Linked DNA regions of Homo sapiens: region 1 is linked to region 2. The links come from fine-mapping of genetic effects on gene expression. A gene starts in region 2. The other region holds a variant in brackets. All regions are shown on one strand. Distances are between the middles of the regions. Region 1 holds the start of PAXX (PAXX non-homologous end joining factor). Region 2 holds the start of SNHG7 (small nucleolar RNA host gene 7).

Region 1 (8,314 bases), 270 kb before region 2:
CGCCTGTAATCCCAGCTACTCGGGAGGCTGGGGCAGGAGAATCGCTTCAGCCGGTGAGGCGCGGGTTGCAATGAGCCGAGATTGAGCCATTGCACTCCAGCCTGGGTGACAGTGAGACTCCATCTTAAAACAACAACACCGCGGGGCGCGGGAGCTCACGCCTGTAATCCCAGCACTTTGGGAGGCCGAGGCGAGCGGATCACGAGGTCAGGAGATCGAGACCATCCTGGCTAACGCAGTGAAACCCCGTCTCTACTAAAAATACAAAAATTAGCCAGGTGTGGTAGCGGGCGCCTGTAGTCCCAGCTACTTGGGAGGCTGAGACAGGAGAATGGCGTGAACCTGGGGAGGCAGAACTTGCAGTGAGCCGAGATTGTGCCACTGCACTCCAGCCTGGGCGACAGAGCAAGACTGCATCTCATTAAAAAAAAAAAACAAAAAAAACAGAAGCTCACTGCCTAGCAGTCTGGAGGTCAGACATAGCACCTAGGCTTGGGCAGGGCTGCTTCCTCCCAAGGGCCTTGGAGAGCATCCGCTTGGCTCCCAGGCTTACAGATGTGCCACCCTGATTTCTGCCTGCGGCCCTCCCTGTGCATCTGTGTCCAAACTCGCCTTTCTATACTGACATCAGTCATATTGGATCAGGGCACATCCTACTCACCACATTTTAACTTGATAACTTCTATAAAGACCCTATTTCAGCCGGGTGCGGTGGCTCACACCTGTATTCCCAGCATTTTGGGAGGCCAAGGTGGGTAGATCTTCTGAGGTCAGGAGTTCGAGACCAGCCTGATCAACATGGTGAAACCCTGTCTCTACTACAAATACAAGGAAAAAAAAAAAAAGCTCAGCGTGGTGACGTGTACCTGTAATCCCAGCTACTCCAGAGGCTGAGAAAGTAGAATTGCTTGAACCCAGGAGGCAGAAGTTGCAGTGAGCCGAGATTGCACCACTGCATTCCAGCCTGGGCAACAGAGCAAGACTCTGTCTCAAAAAAAATGTTAAAAAGCCCCTGTTTCCACATAAGGTCACATTCTTTATTTTTTTTCCAAGATGGAGTCTTGCTCTGTTGCCCAGGCTGGAATGCAGTGGCACTATCTCTGCTCACTGCAACTCTGTCTCCCGGGTTCAAGCACTTCTCCTGCCTCAGCTTCCCGAGTAGCTGGGATTACAGGTGCCTGCCACTATGCCTGGCTAATTTTTGTATTTTTAGTAGAGACGGGGTTTCACCATGTTGGTCAGGCTGGTCTCAAACTCCTGACCTCAGGTGATCCACCCCCCTCGGCCTCCCAGACTGCTGGGATTACAGGCATGAGTCACCGTGCCCGGCCCATATAAGGTCACATTCTGAGGCACTAGGGGTTAGGACTCCAGCCTAAGAATTTAAATTTAAGGGGACACAAGCCACGCCATTTACCTAATCTCAGGCCCTCCCTGCAGTGGGCATGCATGGAGTCACCTTTTCCGTCCTTCTCCCTGGACACAACTGGAGTCTCCCATAGACAGGGTGGTGGCCGTGCCACGGAGCCACGCCACGCCACGCCACGCCACGCAGTGGGGCAGCCAGCACTCACTTGCCCTTCACAGGGAAACCGGCCGGGTGTGGCAGCTCGCGCCTGTAGTTCCAGCACTGTGGGAGACCAAGGCAGGTGGGTCACTTGAGCCCATGAGGTGGAGACCAGCCTGGGCAACATGGCAGGACCCTGTTTCTAGTAAATAAATGAATTGATTAAACCATAAAAAAAAAAGGAAGCCACCGGGCTGATTCCCAGGTGGCGAGGGCACAGGGGGGTGTTGGATGGCCACTGCCGCTCCACAGTCCACAGCCCACGCCCACAGAACGCAGTGGGGCCGCTGCAGCGGTGAACCGAGTCTTGTTGGTTTGTTTCTTGAGACGGGCGTGAGGTGAATGGTCTTCCTGTGTCTTGTTTTCTTTTTCCTTCTGAGCCACCGGTTCACGGCCTCTGTCCGTGCCGTCATTTTTCCTGTGGGTTTGTGAGGGTGCGTCTGTCGGTGTTAAAGACACAGGATGCCGGGGCAGCAGAGGGGGCTGGGGGCCTGGGGCTTCTCTGTGGTTGGCCATTTGCCTGCCAGGGATGTGGGAAACCAGCAAGCGGAGCTATAACCACAGTGTCCAGAAAGAGCTGAAATACTAGGGCTTGGAATCGAGGTGGAGGCCGGATGGAGGGAAATTGAGGTTCAGGACACCAAAGGATGGGGCAGCCACATGGTATTTCCAAGGCTCTGTGTCCAGGAGCCCCGACTGGCGTGGTATCCAGAGAAGCATCAGGCTGGGCTGACTGGGGCAGCACTGGAGTGTGTTCCACCGGGGACGGATGAGGGGCCCGTACCAAGGCCCTGGGGAGAAGGTGAGCAGGAGAGCAGTGCCACCTCAGCTGCCCTGTCCAGGCTGGTGAGGCACCACACCGCCTGGGGGAGGTGTGGCCAGGCCAATCCTGTGGGCACCCCAGGTCTCTGGGTGGAATCTCCCCTCGGTGTACCTCCCTGGGGCTGCACCCTAAAGCGTCAGGGCCAGGTGGGAGGAAGGCACAGTTGGCGACCCCAAAGGGCCAGACTGAACTGTGGGTTCCAATCACGCCAGGAGGCTCAGCGCAGGCTCACACCTGTGGACCACCACCCTCCCCTGGCCTCTTTCTTCCAGCCACGCAGGCTGTGGCTTCTAACCCCTCTCCTGCTGCTTCTTTTTAAAGGTTAAGGGGTTGGGGGTAAGAAACCTGCGCTGAGCGCCAGTGGGAGGGATGGGAGGTGGGGTGGAGACCTGCACTGCCGGCCAAACACCAAAGCCAGGCTGGCCTCCCCGCCCTGTTGCGGGCAGGTCTGGAATTTGAGCCCTGCCCTGAGCGGGGAGGGCCCTGCCTGACTGCTCCGTAGCTGGGAAGGGGCGGCTCCCCCAGGTGGGCTTATCACCCTCCCGATGCCCTGGTGCTGCAGATGGGGAACTGAAGCCAGGCTGGGCAGGCCATTTCTCCTGCTCACCCACACCCACTGGCTTTCTGGGCTGGGAGCCCTGACAAGGGGTATTTGCGGAAGGGAGAGCCATAGGGCAGGGTCTGAGCTGGGTTCACGGTGGAGGTGGTCCTGACCCAGAGCCGCCCCCTTCCCAGGTGACACCCCCTGCACCCTTCTGGCCTGTAGGCTCTCCCTATGCCCTGCCCCCTGGTCTCCACCCACCACGCTGGCTCCCAGCACACTCAGTACCGGGTGGGCGGATCTCCGTGCACACCAGACTCAAGTCCAGGGCAGCCCCCCACACCATTCCGCCACCCTGAGGTCACACCCTCAGGCTCAGACACCCCGGGGCCGGGCTGGCGTTGCTCAGGCAGCTGGTTCTGCGCGCTGGGCAGCTTCATCTGCCCGCCTAGGTGGCTCCACGGGGCGGGCCCCTCGGCCAGGGAGGGCGGGGCGCACAGGGAGACTTAAAGAGCTCCCCAGGTCCCCACCCGCGCCTGACCGCGGCAGCTCCCACCATGGCGGAGACCAAGCTCCAGCTGTTTGTCAAGGTGCAGGGCGGACTCAGCTGCGGGGAGGGTGTCTGGGAGGAAGCGCTTTTCTGGGCTTTGCTTTCTGTGGCAGGCTGTGGGGTGGGCCTCCCAGTAATGTCTGAGCCCCTTCCTGTGGGTGGCTAGGGGGACTCAGGCAGCCCTACAGAGGCTGAGTAAAGTGGGACCCAGCGAGTCACCCAGAGAGGGGTCAGTGGCCCTGGTCCTGCTCCCAGCCTTGGCTCCTGGGCCCAGCCCAGTCTTCTGGAGGAGAGCTCCTTGGTGGGGAGGTACCAAGCAGGCTGCCAACAGTGGAGCTTACGGTCGGTGTTCCAGGATGGGGGGTGCTGGGCCAGGCAGCCCCATCAGCTCTCAGGTCGGGGACTGGGGTGGGGGACTGATGTGCTGTTGGCCACAGTGCCCAGTCTCATGTGTGAATCACTCAGAAAACAGCTTGTGAGGCCCACCCCACCCCTGCAACCAGCTTTTGGGGACTGAGCCCAGGGGCCTGGCCTCTGTCCAGGCTCTGACAAGATTCCAGGGGCCAAGCCTGCCCCAGGCCTCAAGGCTCCCAGCAGCTCTGCCCCCCTCCCCACGTTCTGGGGACCAAGTCAAGGGCCCTCACTGGGCACTTGGAAGTCGCGCCGACCAAGCTGGAGCCCTGGCGTCCCTCCAATCCCACTGGCAGTGGGAGGCGGGTCCCGCCCAGCCTGGCGGCAGGATGCCTGGGTCTGCTTCCAGCCCTGACCCCCCACCCCCGCTCCACCCACCCAGGCGAGTGAGGACGGGGAGAGCGTGGGTCACTGCCCCTCCTGCCAGCGGCTCTTCATGGTCCTGCTCCTCAAGGGCGTACCTTTCACCCTCACCACGGTGGACAC[G/C]CGCAGGTGAGGCCCCATCCTGTGGACCCCCGCCTGGCCTCGCACACTGGTGGGCCGGCCTCCTCCCACCCCGCTGCTGCCCGCAGGTCCCCGGACGTGCTGAAGGACTTCGCCCCCGGCTCGCAGCTGCCCATCCTGCTCTATGACAGCGACGCCAAGACAGACACGCTGCAGATCGAGGACTTTCTGGAGGAGACGCTGGGGCCGCCCGAGTGAGAGCCCCGGCAGGGTGGGAGGGGAAAAGAGGGGGGCCCAGGGAGGACGCGCGCAAGACAGAGCCCAGGAAGGCGCTGTGGGGGTACTGTGGGGCCGGGACGGGGCTGCCCCCAGTCTAATGGAGTCCCACCCCCTCATCCCGCAGCTTCCCCAGCCTGGCGCCTCGTTACAGGGAGTCCAACACCGCCGGCAACGACGTTTTCCACAAGTTCTCCGCGTTCATCAAGAACCCGGTGCCCGCGCAGGACGAAGGTGAAGCGGGGTCAGGGGGTCGGGTGCCCAGGCGGGAGGGCGCCCTGGGCCTGGTCCTCACCGCGCCGCCTGCCCCCTAGCCCTGTACCAGCAGCTGCTGCGCGCCCTCGCCAGGCTGGACAGCTACCTGCGCGCGCCCCTGGAGCACGAGCTGGCGGGGGAGCCGCAGCTGCGCGAGTCCCGCCGCCGCTTCCTGGACGGCGACAGGCTCACGCTGGCCGACTGCAGCCTCCTGCCCAAGCTGCACATCGTCGACGTGAGCACGGAAGGTGGGCGGGCGGGAGGGTGACCGCGGCGCGCCTGGGGGACGGCAGGTCCTGACCGCGCCCCGCGATCCTGCCCGCAGACGGTGTGCGCGCACTTCCGCCAGGCGCCCATCCCCGCGGAGCTGCGCGGCGTACGCCGCTACCTGGACAGCGCGATGCAGGAGAAAGAGTTCAAATACACGTGTCCGCACAGCGCCGAGATCCTGGCGGCCTACCGGCCCGCCGTGCACCCCCGCTAGCGCCCCACCCCGCGTCTGTCGCCCAATAAAGGCATCTTTGTCGGGAGTGAGGGTGTCCTGACATCTGAAGGGCCAGAGGTCTCGGGATCACTTCCCATCCCCAAACCCCAGGGTGGGACGCTCAGCCCGATAGCCCAGAACCACAGGGGCAGGAGCGCCGGGGGTCGGGCCGGTCCCATCCTCCACGCTAAGAAGGCGCAGACTCCAGGCCTCCTGCAACCGGTGGCCTCAGGGATCTCCAGGACCGGACTGGGCTCCCAAACCAGTCAGGCCGGGGTGGGGCGGGGTGCCCCAGGTGGATGGGGGCTGGCACATTCCTCAATCCTGTCCCGGGGCAGGCGCTCCCCTCCCCGCAGGGCACTTCCAGTGTCTCAGGGTCTACACGGGACTTCTGTCTGCATCCTCCCACGGGGCTCCGTGCCCTACCTGGGTGCGGCCTGGGAGGGTGGGAACAAAGTTCTAAGCCTTGGGGAGCCCTGGCCCTGCCTGGCTGGGCCCCTCTCAGCTCCTGGGCTGGCAGGGCTGGAATAGCTGGACGGTCTGAGAGTGCTCACCTCCCTCCGGCCCAGCAAGGAAGTCTCCAGGGAGCTGAGAGGCTGCAGCATCTGTTCACATCCTGTGGCCCTACACCCAGAACACAGGCCCAGGGGTGTTCCCTGATCCCTTCCCAGGCCAGTGCCAGGAGTCAGAGCCCCACCAGAGCCTCCAACCAAGGGAGCTGTTTATTTGACAGGGAAGGAATTTGAGGAGCCGTGTTAGTCCTGGCCCAGGACAGGCAGGTGGAGGTGGTGGCGGGGGGTCTCTGATGGGGGCCTCAAAGACTGCCTCTCCCCTCATAGGCGGACTCCCCGCGGGGCCACGCTTGTGCTGCACCTTCAGGTCTCATCGAAGTCCACGCCACCAGCTGGTTTCTTACTGGGAGGGAAGAGGGGTGTCACTATGGCACTATGGTGTGGAGAAAGGGGTGGGGTCCAGGATTGGACCCTGGGCGCAGGAAGGGGGCTGTGGGAGGGTACCTCTTGAACCCGGGGTTGATGAGCGACTCTCCTGGACACCGCCTCCTGACTCCAGGTCCAGGGCCACCTCTCTGGGGATCTGGGTCTGGGGGAAAACAGGACAGGGGCAGCTCCTGAACCTGGCAGCATCCCAACCACAACCTTCTCCGAATAGATAGGCATTCTCTCTGGAGCGTGAGTCTTGTTTGGGGGGAAACTGAGTTCCAGGTTAAAGAGCACAGCCCTACTTGAGTCACAGGCGGACATGCCTTACCTGGTAAGAAGAGCTGAGGCCCTGCAGGCCGGGGGCTCTTCCTCGGGCTGACAGCTGTCTCTTCTGCAGCTGGGGAGGAAAGCCCATGGGAACCCCACTCAGTGCCAGGAGTGGGGGCAAGAGCAGGGGACCCCAGTGAAGGTATGAGGTGCCCACCCCCAATCCTACCTGCCAGTCGCCGCTCCAGGCTCCACACGCGTTTTGCCAGGCCCAGTGTCAGCGCCCGCAGCCTGGGGGCTGCCTCTGGGCCTGGTACCTTGGAGAGGTCAAAGGCCAGTGCCGAGGGCCCCCCTGAAAGCGTCAGGGATGCTCTGTCCTCCTGCAGAGTCAGAGCCACAGCTTGCTGCTCACAGGCTGCCCTGGGAGAGGAGAGGTGCGGAGAGCTGTGGCAGACCCTCCTCCTCCCCACCCGTCCTTCCTCCCTGCTTGGGTCTCACCTGAACCGGGGGGTGATGTCCTCAGCCGCACTCAGGCCAAAACGGGCTTTCTAGAGAGCACAGGGGCTTGTCACGAGCTGCCTGGAACCCGAGGCCCACTGGGGGCACCCGAAACCTGCCCGACCCCAGAGCCCTAGCCAATGGGAGGACTACAGCTACAGGGCGGGCAGAGGGTGTCAGAGCCTTCTGGGGAATCCCAGATGTCTGTCGCCCCATAGACGATCTGCACTGCAAGGAGGGGTGTGGCGGCTCCCAGACCCGCCCAGTTACCCACGAGGGCCGCCAGGCTGTCCGGCGTGAAGCAGGTGCTCCAAAGCTCCGCGGCGTCGGTCACGCTGGGGGAGAAGGCCTGTCAGGCGGGGCCGCCCGCGGAGCTCCCTGCACCCCTACCTCCCCGCGGACCCCCACTCACTAGAGGTTGAAGCCGCCGCGGTCCCCCTCCCCGCTTTCCTCCCCTTCGCAGTAGCACACGAAGCGGGGCGGCTCGGGGCCCGGCGGCAGCGTGCAGAGCGGCGGCGACAGCGGATCCATGGCGCCGGGCGAGCGGGAACCCGGCGGGGCGGGGCTTGGGCGCCGGGAGGGGCGGGGCTGTGCGGGCTCAGGGCTCCTGCGCGGAAGAACGACTTCCGGAGCCGGGTGCAGGCCAGTCGCGGGCTTAGGGAGCTTGCGCGGGGCGGAGTCTGGTTGGGGGCGGGGTCTGTGTGTGGAGGCGGGGTTAGGGGCGGGGTTATGAGGGTGGGGGGATTCGGGGCGGGGCTAAAGGCACAGGCCGGGCCGCGCGGACCCGGTACCCGCGCGGGCTTCAGGCGACTAGAGGCCGAGTTTAGTGCGCGGGGCGGGCCGGAGCAGGGCGTCCTGGGTCAGGGATCCAGAGGCCCTGCCCCCAGCGCTGGCCTCGCCGGTCGTGGGCTCCACGGCGCGATCCCGGGCTCTGGCCCTCGCGCCCGCGAGCAGCCCCACTCGAACCTCGCCCCCTCCCGCCCCCGCCCCGGCTCCAAGTCCAGCCGAGTCCAGGTTCCCTCCGTGGCTCTGCGGATACATCCTGGAGCCCCGCCCTTCCATCGTCTTCACACACAAACCGGAAGCTTCCTAACTCTAATCGTAAGAAGTTACGGTTGGTCCGGCAAGGTGACTCACGCCTGTAATCCCAGCACTTTGGGAGGCCGAGGCGGGCAGATTGCCTGAGGTCAGGAGTTCGAGACCAGTCTGGCCAACATGGTGAAACCCCGTCTCTACTAAAAATACAAAAAAATTAGC
Region 2 (8,314 bases):
GTGTGGCGGGGGGTGGGGGGGAGAGCTTGGGGGGGATGCAAACCCTTGGTAATGACCTTGGTGTGAACCTGTGTCCACAAGGCAGCCAAAGCAGGGAGGGGAAGGCGTCCACGTTTAGTTGATTTGTTGTTTTATCCAGAATGGTGATCCGTGAAGTCTGGAAGAAATTCTGAGTCGTCACAGAGTGTGGGTGTTCTGAGACTGCGGGCTGTCTGTTGCTGTCACTTTTGTTTTGTTTGTTTTGGTTTTTTTTTTTTTTTTTTTTTTGAGAGGGAGTCTCAGTCTGCCGCCCAGGCTGGAGTGCATGCAGTGGCACAATATCTGCTCACTGCAACCTCTGCCTCCCAGGTTCAAGTGATTCTCCTGCCTCAGCCTCCTGAGTAGCTGGGATTATAGGTGCGCACCATCATGCCCAGCTGATTTTTGCATTTTTAGTAGAGATGGGGTTTCCCCATGTTGGCCAGGCTGGTCTCGAACTCCTGACCTCAGGTGATCCACCCGCCTCAGCCTCCCAAAGTACTGGGATTACAGGCGTGAGCCACTGCGCCAGGCCTCTTTGGTTGGGTTTTTAAATTTTTTTAAAATTTTTTTGAGACGGTGTCTCACTCTGTTGCCCAGGCCAGAGTGCAGTGGCACAATCTCAGCTCGCTGCAAACTCCGCCTCCTGGGTTCAAGTGATTCTCCCACCTCAGCCTCCTGTGTAGCTTGGATTATAGGCACCCACTATCATGCCTGGCTAATTTTTGTATTTTTGTAAAGATGGGGTTTCACTACATTGACCAAGCTGGTCTTGAACCCCTGACCTCAGGTGATCCACCCACCTTGGCCTCCCAAAGTTCTGGGGTTACAGGCGTGAGCCACCGCGCCTGGTGGGCTTCTATTTTGTTTTGAATGGTAAGTTCTGTGGTTTGAATGTGTCCTCTCCAAAATTCAGATGTTGCCAGTGTGAACATATCAAGAGGTGGGGCCTTTGAAGAGGCGATTAGGCCATGAGGTCTCCTCCCGTGTGAATGGGATGAAGGCCCTTCTGAAGCAGCATCCTGCTAGGCTGCTCTGCTGCTACGGGACAGAGCAAGAAGGCCCTTACCAGACGCCAGACACTCACCTTGTTCCCAGACCTCCCAGCCTCCAGAACTGTTCTGTTCTTTATAATTTACCCAGTCCCAGGTATTTTGTTATAGCAGCACAAATAAACTAAGGCAGTAAATAAATAATTTCCTTAAATTTTTTATTGCAGTAAAATATACAGAACATAAAATTCACCGTTTTAACCTTTTTTTTTTTTTTAGACAGGTTCTGTCTCTGTTATCCAGGCTGGAGTGCAGTGACACAATCACAGGTCACTGCAGCCCCCAACTCCTGGGCTCAAAGGATCCTCCCACCTCAGCCACCTGAGTAGCTAGGATTACAGACTATGCCTGGCTAATTTTGTCCAGCTAATTTTCACCGTGTTGCCCAGGCTGGTCTGGAACTCCTGGCCTCAAGCAATCTGCCCACCTTGACCTCTCAAAGGACTGGGATTACAGGCGTGAGCCACCACACCCGGCCTGGCCTTAACCTTTTTTTTTTGAGACAAAGTCTCGCTCTGTTCCCCAGGCTGGAGTGCAATGGCTGGATCTCGGCTCACCACAACCTCTGCCTCCCGGGTTCAAGCGATTCTCCTGCCTCAGCTCCCAGGTAGCAGGATTACGGGCATGCACCACCACGCTCGGCGAATTTTGTATTTTTAGTAGAGATGGCGTTTCTCCATGTTGGTCAGGATGGTCTCAAACTCCCGACCTCAGGTGATACGCCCAACTTCGGCCTCCCAAAGTGCTGGGATTACAGACATGAGCCACTGCGCCCGGCCTGCCCTAACCATTTTTAAGTGCACACTCCAGTGGCATTAAGTACATTCACATTGTCGTGCGACCATCACCCCCATCATCTTCTCCAGAATTTTTTTTTTTGTTTTTTTGAGACGCTCTGTCGCCCAGGCTGGAGTGCAAAGGCTCGATCTTGGCTCACTGCAAACTCCGCCTCCCGGGTTCACGCCATTCTCCCACCTCAGCCTCCCAAGTAGCTGGGATTACAGGGTTGCGTCACTATGCCCGGCTAATTTTTGTATTTTTAGTAGAGACAGGGTTTCACCATGTTGGCCAGGATGGTCATGAACTCCTGACCTCAGGTGATCCGCCCGCCTCAGCCTCCCAAAGTGTTGGCCTTACAGGCGTGAGCCACCGCACCTAGCCTGGGCTGACCTGCACAGAAGTGCCATCTACCTACCCTCTGACCTCTGTCATGTGACCTGGGGCAGGGGATGTGACATCTCCACCTTCTAAGTACCCCACTGTCATGGGGTAGCTCCTCTCTCAGGTGCTGGGGCTCAGGTCCTCTCCTGGGTCTCAGCAGGTCATGGTCTGCTCCGGGGCTATGCATACTGGTTTCAGTAAGTGCTTGGTAGATCTACCCCGCAGCATGGAGCAAGTGCTGGGTCGGGTGCAATGGACTCAGTATCTCTGAAGGAGGAGATGTCTCTTGCCCTCTCTCCACAGCTAGAGCTTTCACTAGCTACAGAGCTACAGCCAACTCCTGCACCAGCTCAGAAGGTAGAGCCAGCTCCGGCTACAACTCGGGTGCTAGTTCCAGGATCAGAGCCAGCTCCAGCAACAGCTCCAGCAGCACACCCAGAGACAGGGGCAGCTCTGGTCACTTCTGTGCCGGCTCCACTATAGCTCCAGCATCCGCCCTCTAGCCAGGACCAGTTCCAAAACCATTTGCATGGTTAGGGCCAAATATCAGCATCAGGTTCAGAAAAAGAGCCAGGGCCAGCATCAGCTACAGGCCCAGCTTCAGCACCGCGGCTCACACCAGTGCGGGTTCCTGTACCAGCTCAAGAACTATGGCCACAGCCAGCACAACTCCAGATCTCACTCCAGCTGCCGCACCAGCTCTACCACCTACTCCAGAAACAGAGGCAGCTCTATCACCAAATCTGGTGCCACCTCCGGTGACTGCTCGGGCACCGGCTCCAAAACCACTTCCAGAGTTTCAGCCAGTTCCAGGTGTAGACCTCAAGCCAGTGCCAGGTTCAGAGGAAGGGCCAGCTGCAGCACCACCTCCAGAGCCAGAGCTGGCACCAGATATAAAGCGATGGCTGATTCCACAACCAGAACCAGAATTAGAGGCAGCTCCAGAGCTACAGCCATCTCAGACCTGCACCAGCTTCAGAACGAGAGCCAGAGTTCCTGCCAGCTCTAGAGCGAAATCCAATCAAGAACCAGCTCTAGCACCATATCCAGAGCTAGGACCAGCTCTGACACTTTTCCCAGGGCAAAGACTAGCAACAGCAACACAGCTAGAGGCAGCTCCAGAGCATCGGTCCCCGGGGCAGAGCCAGCTTGTCTCCAACAACCGTGTCAGTGCTAGGACAGAGCCTGCACCATCTCTGGAGGTGGAGCCTGCTGTGGTGCCAGCTCCAGCCCCAACACCAGAGCTAGAACCCAGCCTGCTGGTGGGGCCACACAGGGAGGAGCCTCAGACCGCGCAGTTGCAGCCCAGTTGCAAAGTGTCCTGGGGTCCTGCGCTGGGGCTTTTCTTAGGAGCCCTGGGGTGTTTTCTGGCTTTGCAAAGGCAATGAAAATTTGAGTTGAATTTATCACCAGCTCCTGCTCCCTCTAAGCCAGTACCCGAGCTGGAGCCAGCTCCTATGCCAGCTCCCGCACCCCGGCCTTCCTGGCCTTTGCCTGTGGCTGCAGAGAGCAGGCTGAGCCAGAAGCCTCATCTCCTGGTGTCCCCTCCAGGCCTAAGGCTAGAGCGGTCTGCGCTGTGCAATGCGGAGGCTGCCCAGCCCCAGGACAGCAGCGCGGCCTTCCTCCCGGCCCCTGCGGCTCAGGCCTGTCATCCCCTGCTCTGGAGCTCGCGTCCTGGTCCGAGTCCCGGCGGCTCCACCGTTCGCAGCCCGGCGACCGCGGCGAGTCGCTTGGCCGCGAGGCCTCGGTGTCCCGCCCTGCGCGGTGACCGAGGTCCCAGGACACAGCGCAGACAGGGCGCTAGTCAGGCCTGGCCGCGGTAATCCCGCCTGCCGGGACCCTCGCCCGCCTCAGCACTCATTAGGCGCCTGGTGTGTACCCGCGCCCATGGCCGACACCGGCAGAGCCCCTGGTGGGGAAGGGACGGAGCGCGTCGCGGGAGCCCCATGCTGCCCGGGGTGGGCGCTGCTCGACAGTCACGGGAGCCGCCCCAATGGCTGGGACCACCGGGACCCACGGGCTCGTGGAGCGTCCTCCTGACCCGGCCTGGGAATCCTCCGCGAAAACGGGGAGCCGCGCGTGTCCGTGGCGTGCCCGGCACCCGGCGGGTCGGAAACGGCGCGGCCCTGGCTGCTGGCCCCGTGGGGCGGTCGCGGTGCAGGACACGGGTCACGGCGCTGCCGCTGCTCTGCGTGGCGAACCCACACGCCCGCCCGCCAGCCACTGAGCAGCGCCCACGTGCGGGCGCGGGGAGCTGAACGGCCGGGGACCGCTGGGGGGCGCTGCTTGGGCGGGGCGGATTGACTCTTGCGGGCCGCCGTACGCGCTATAAAAGGCGCGGCGCTTCCCTTCTCGTCCTCTGCGTGCGCCGGAGGCTGCCGTGGCGGGTGGGCCGCCTGACTTCTCCTCCCGGCCAGTTCTCGAGCGCCTCACCGGGCCTCGCCCTGCAGCCTCGCTCTCGCTGGCGCTGCGCGGCCTAGGGGACTGGGCTGCTGGCCTCCGGGTGCGGGGTGGGGGCAGGCTCCGACCTGGGGCGTCCTGGCCGCGCGAGCCGCGGGATGGGGGCCCGGGCCGCGGAGGAGGCGCCGCTGGTGTGTCCCTTGGTGGAGAGGGCGCTGCCGGCCCTGCGCGGTTTCCAGCCAGGAAGCTTCGGGAAGCCTGGTGAGAGCTGAGTGCGCGAATTCGGATCTTAGAGAAAGGCACCCCGTTCACCCACGACCCTTCCGCTCCTGCCGCTGCTTCCCTGAGTCGCTCAGGCTGTGGGAAGATGTTTGTCGGCATCTTTGAAAAATTGATTTCTTATGCTGCGTCAGGTGGTTTCCTTGTCACTGTGGCTGCTCAGCGGGAGGCTGTTCTGGCGGGAGGAGGACTGCTCGGTTGTCTGGTGGGCATTCCGCCTCGTGGTCCTGGTCCCTTGATACCTGCAGGGGATCAGCAGCCCGCGTTTCGTGGCCACTGTGTTGTAACTCCAACTTCCCCTCCCGCAAATTAAGCGTAGAGTAAGGGGAGAGAGTAACATGGGTCGGATTTTTCTAGAACGGCCCTTGTGACAGTGAGCTTTTTGGTGGCAGGGAGCTTCTTTGGTCCGCCTTCCTGGAGACCAGATGCAGCAAAACGCAGTCTTTTTCTTTTCGAGACAGAGTCTCAGTTGCCCAGGCTGGAGTGCAGTGGCGCGATCTCAGCTCACTACCACCTCTGCCTCCTGGGTTCAAGCGACTTTCCTGCTTCAGCCTCCAGAGTAGCTGGGATTACAGGCGCCAGCCACTAGGCCAGCTAACTTTTTTTTTTTTTTTTTTTAGAGAGACGGGTTTCACCGTGTTGGCCAGGCTGGTTTTGAACTCCTGACCTCAAGTGATCTGCCCGCCTCGGCCTCCCAAAAAACGCAGTGTTTATGTGATGCTCCTCTGTGGTGTTTGCAAGATTTATACAAAATTGCGGTTTCTTTTTTTCTCTAGGACGTCTGCTCACTGGAGATGACACGTGCGTGGGGTGTTGGGTAAGTTGGTGCATTGGAGCTGGAACAGGGTCAATCCTCCAATGTAACTAAGCCCTCCTGTGCAACATCTTAAGTGACTGGAGGGACCAGTCGGTCTTGTGTTCACATTGAGGCTAGAAGCTGTCTCCAGGGGAGTAAAAACGGATTATTTAGTCTTCAACAGGACACTGCCCCTAGAGGCGTTGCAGCTGTGGCTGCCGTGTCACATCTGTGTCATTAGGTGGCAGAGATTAGAGAGGCTATGTCTACGCTCAGCGTTCTGCCCCGTGAACGTTTGAATGTTTGATAGTCTCACACTCCTGTTTTGTGGACAGGCATCTGTTTTCCTTCGCTGGTATCTGGGAGAGAGGGTGGGCCCTGTGAGTGGGCTTTCTAACTCTCGCGCTGGGCTAGGCTGGCCTCTAGGGGTCTGAAGGGATAGTGGGAAGGTGGAGGGTGCCTTCACCAGGAGCAGCCTTCATGAGTGAGTTTTAAGAACCTGTGAGGATCGGTCAGGTCAGGTGAGGTACGCGCTGGATCATGCCGTACACCGTGTCAGGATCACGCAGGACAGGACTGGGGAAGGGTTTGCTGGCGTCTCGGTTAATAGCAGTAACGGCAGCCGCTTGTGTTCTTGATTCTTTGCCAAGCATTCTTGTTATTTAACACGGGAAGGAGGTGACTTCGCCTGTGATGGACTTCCAGTGTGAGCACTGGCCAGAGTGACCAGGCTGACCAGCACCAGCCCTGATCCAGGTAAGAGGTGAGGCGGAGGCTTGCCCTCCTTCCCTGCCTGCCGGGTGCGTGTGAGCGGCTGCCCTGCGGATGCTGTCCTGGACCTGTTGGCACCACAGACAGTTGCTCTGCTGTGCCTGTGGCCTCGGGGCAAAGAGAAAGTGGCGATTTCTACACTCAGTGCTCGGGAACCAGTGGGCACTGAGAATGGTTTATGGCCTGACATTACTTGCAACCAAAGCCAGGCAGCATTTGGATTTTCGCTTTTGGAAACCACCTTACCTGGTTTGCTCCATGAGGGAGGGGCAGCAACATCGCTGGGAACCCTGAGGTGTAGATATGTATAAATGAGCTGTGTGTGTATCTGAAGCTCGGGCACTTGTGGGGTTACCAGGAGTGTGCGTCTCACTCCCAGGCCTCGTTCTGGAAACGATTCTGTAGGTCTGTCTGGGAGGCCTTAGGCAAGTTTGATTAAGAACAGTCGAGCTGGATAAACAGGCTGTTCCTTGTCCAGCACTAGTCATCCCAGGGGGGCGGGGGCGGGGCTGCAACTCCTGTGCACAAAGGAAGGGCCCTGGGTAGGGGTCAGGAGCTGCCTTGCCCAGAGATGTGTCTGGGTCACTTTGGAAACAGGAATCCTCTCCCCAAAATGGGTAGCAATGGGGGTACAGAGGCCAAAGACGCAGCTGCATGTCCTGCAGTGCCTGGGACGCCCCGTAGTGAAGAGTGATGTGGCCCAAATGTCAGCAGTGCCAGTGTCAGACTCCTGCTAAGAGACAGTATCAAGAAAGATAACTTCAAAATACACTTTCTGGAGGCCTGGCGCGGTGGCTCAGGCCTGTAATCCCAGCACTCTGGGAGGCCAATGCATGTGGATCACCTGAGGTCAGGAGTTCGAGACCAGCCTGGCCAACTGCCTGAAACCCCATCTCTACTAAAAATACAAAAATTAGCCAGGTGTGGTGGCGCAAGCCTGTAATCCCAGCTATTTGGGAGGCTGAGGCAGGAGAATCGCTTGAACCCGGGAGGCAGAGGTTGCAGTGAGCCGAGATCGCACCACTGCACTCCAGCCTGGACAACAGAGTGGGACTCTGTCTCAAAAAAAAAAAAAAAAAAAAAAGTACAGTTTCGGGATTTCATAAATTGGGTTCCCTGAGGGTCATTTGGTGAATCCGGGTTAAAGAACCCTGGTCTGCATCACTGTCCTTGTTTGTTTTTCAGATGCAGAGGCCAGGATGTGGGCCCAGCCCTGTGCCAGGAGGCTGGCTGGAATAAAGGTACAGATAGAGGCCTCACCCCCTCTGGGACCACTGGCACTCAGGGTGTTTGCAGCCTCAGAGCCCACCTGCCCCCAGGGCCACAGCTGCATCTCCTGCCCTGCTGTCATTACAGGGATGGGCAGGCTGGCATGGGGGCAGCCGCTGCCCCTGCCTGGGTGTTGCTGTGTATTCCTGCCGGCCAGGGGCCACTGCCAGGACCACGCCTCCCTTTTCATATCCCGATTCTTAAGTTCTGCTATTGTGGTATTCTGGTGGAGAAAAAAGAACCGCGTGGCTGTTTTTGAACTGCCTGGAACCTAAGACCCTGAATTCTTTTCCCCCCCAAGGGGAAAATCTATATGGAAAACATTTATTTTAAAATACAGGATGAAGTGAATTAAAAGATTTAAATGCACATTTCTTTAAGGATAATATTTCTGTGTTGGCAAAATTTGAGAGTAAATTGGTCTTGAATGGAATGGATTGTCTTGACTCACACATTGCGGAGCAGAGCCCGCCCTGAAGAAAGGTGTTGCTGTGGTGGGATCTTCCCACGAGGGTCCTTGCCTGTTCTCCTAGGGGATGGTTGCTGGGTGCCCTGGGCTACTGGGGAG

What was found.
Region 1: its variant is fine-mapped to the expression of SNHG7 in adrenal gland (GTEx, PIP 0.98).

What each region holds. Positions count from the first base shown.
Region 1 is chr9:136,991,718-137,000,031 of GRCh38, reverse strand. It overlaps PAXX (PAXX non-homologous end joining factor), which reads right to left and starts at 7,610. Exons shown (of 7, transcript NM_183241.3): 1 at 7,470-7,610; 2 at 7,332-7,392; 3 at 7,058-7,107; 4 at 6,789-6,979; 5 at 6,621-6,689; 6 at 6,368-6,452; 7 at 6,056-6,266. The coding sequence starts at 7,588. The coding sequence ends at 6,227. CLIC3 (chloride intracellular channel 3) reads left to right here and starts at 3,464. Exons shown (of 6, transcript NM_004669.3): 1 at 3,464-3,521; 2 at 4,275-4,384; 3 at 4,465-4,590; 4 at 4,740-4,846; 5 at 4,927-5,102; 6 at 5,193-5,424. The coding sequence starts at 3,489. The coding sequence ends at 5,351. RefSeq lists an enhancer at 6,875-7,417 and silencers at 7,375-7,754, 7,765-8,054. The variant G/C (reference allele first, on the strand shown) is at 4,379.
Region 2 is chr9:136,724,459-136,732,772 of GRCh38, reverse strand. SNHG7 (small nucleolar RNA host gene 7) reads left to right here and starts at 4,589. Exons shown (of 5, transcript NR_024543.1): 1 at 4,589-4,892; 2 at 5,687-5,727; 3 at 6,357-6,462; 4 at 7,663-7,718; 5 at 7,834-8,179. It overlaps DIPK1B (divergent protein kinase domain 1B), which reads right to left. Exons shown (of 5, transcript NM_152421.4): 5 at 8,031-8,314. It overlaps LOC124900276 (cuticle collagen 2-like), which reads left to right and starts at 4,589. Exons shown (of 5, transcript XM_047424334.1): 1 at 4,589-4,892; 2 at 5,687-5,727; 3 at 6,357-6,462; 4 at 7,663-7,718. It overlaps SNORA17B (small nucleolar RNA, H/ACA box 17B), which reads left to right and starts at 6,536; the gene lies at 6,536-6,669. It also overlaps SNORA17A. RefSeq lists enhancers at 1-181, 3,242-3,391 and silencers at 3,839-4,008, 4,162-4,841.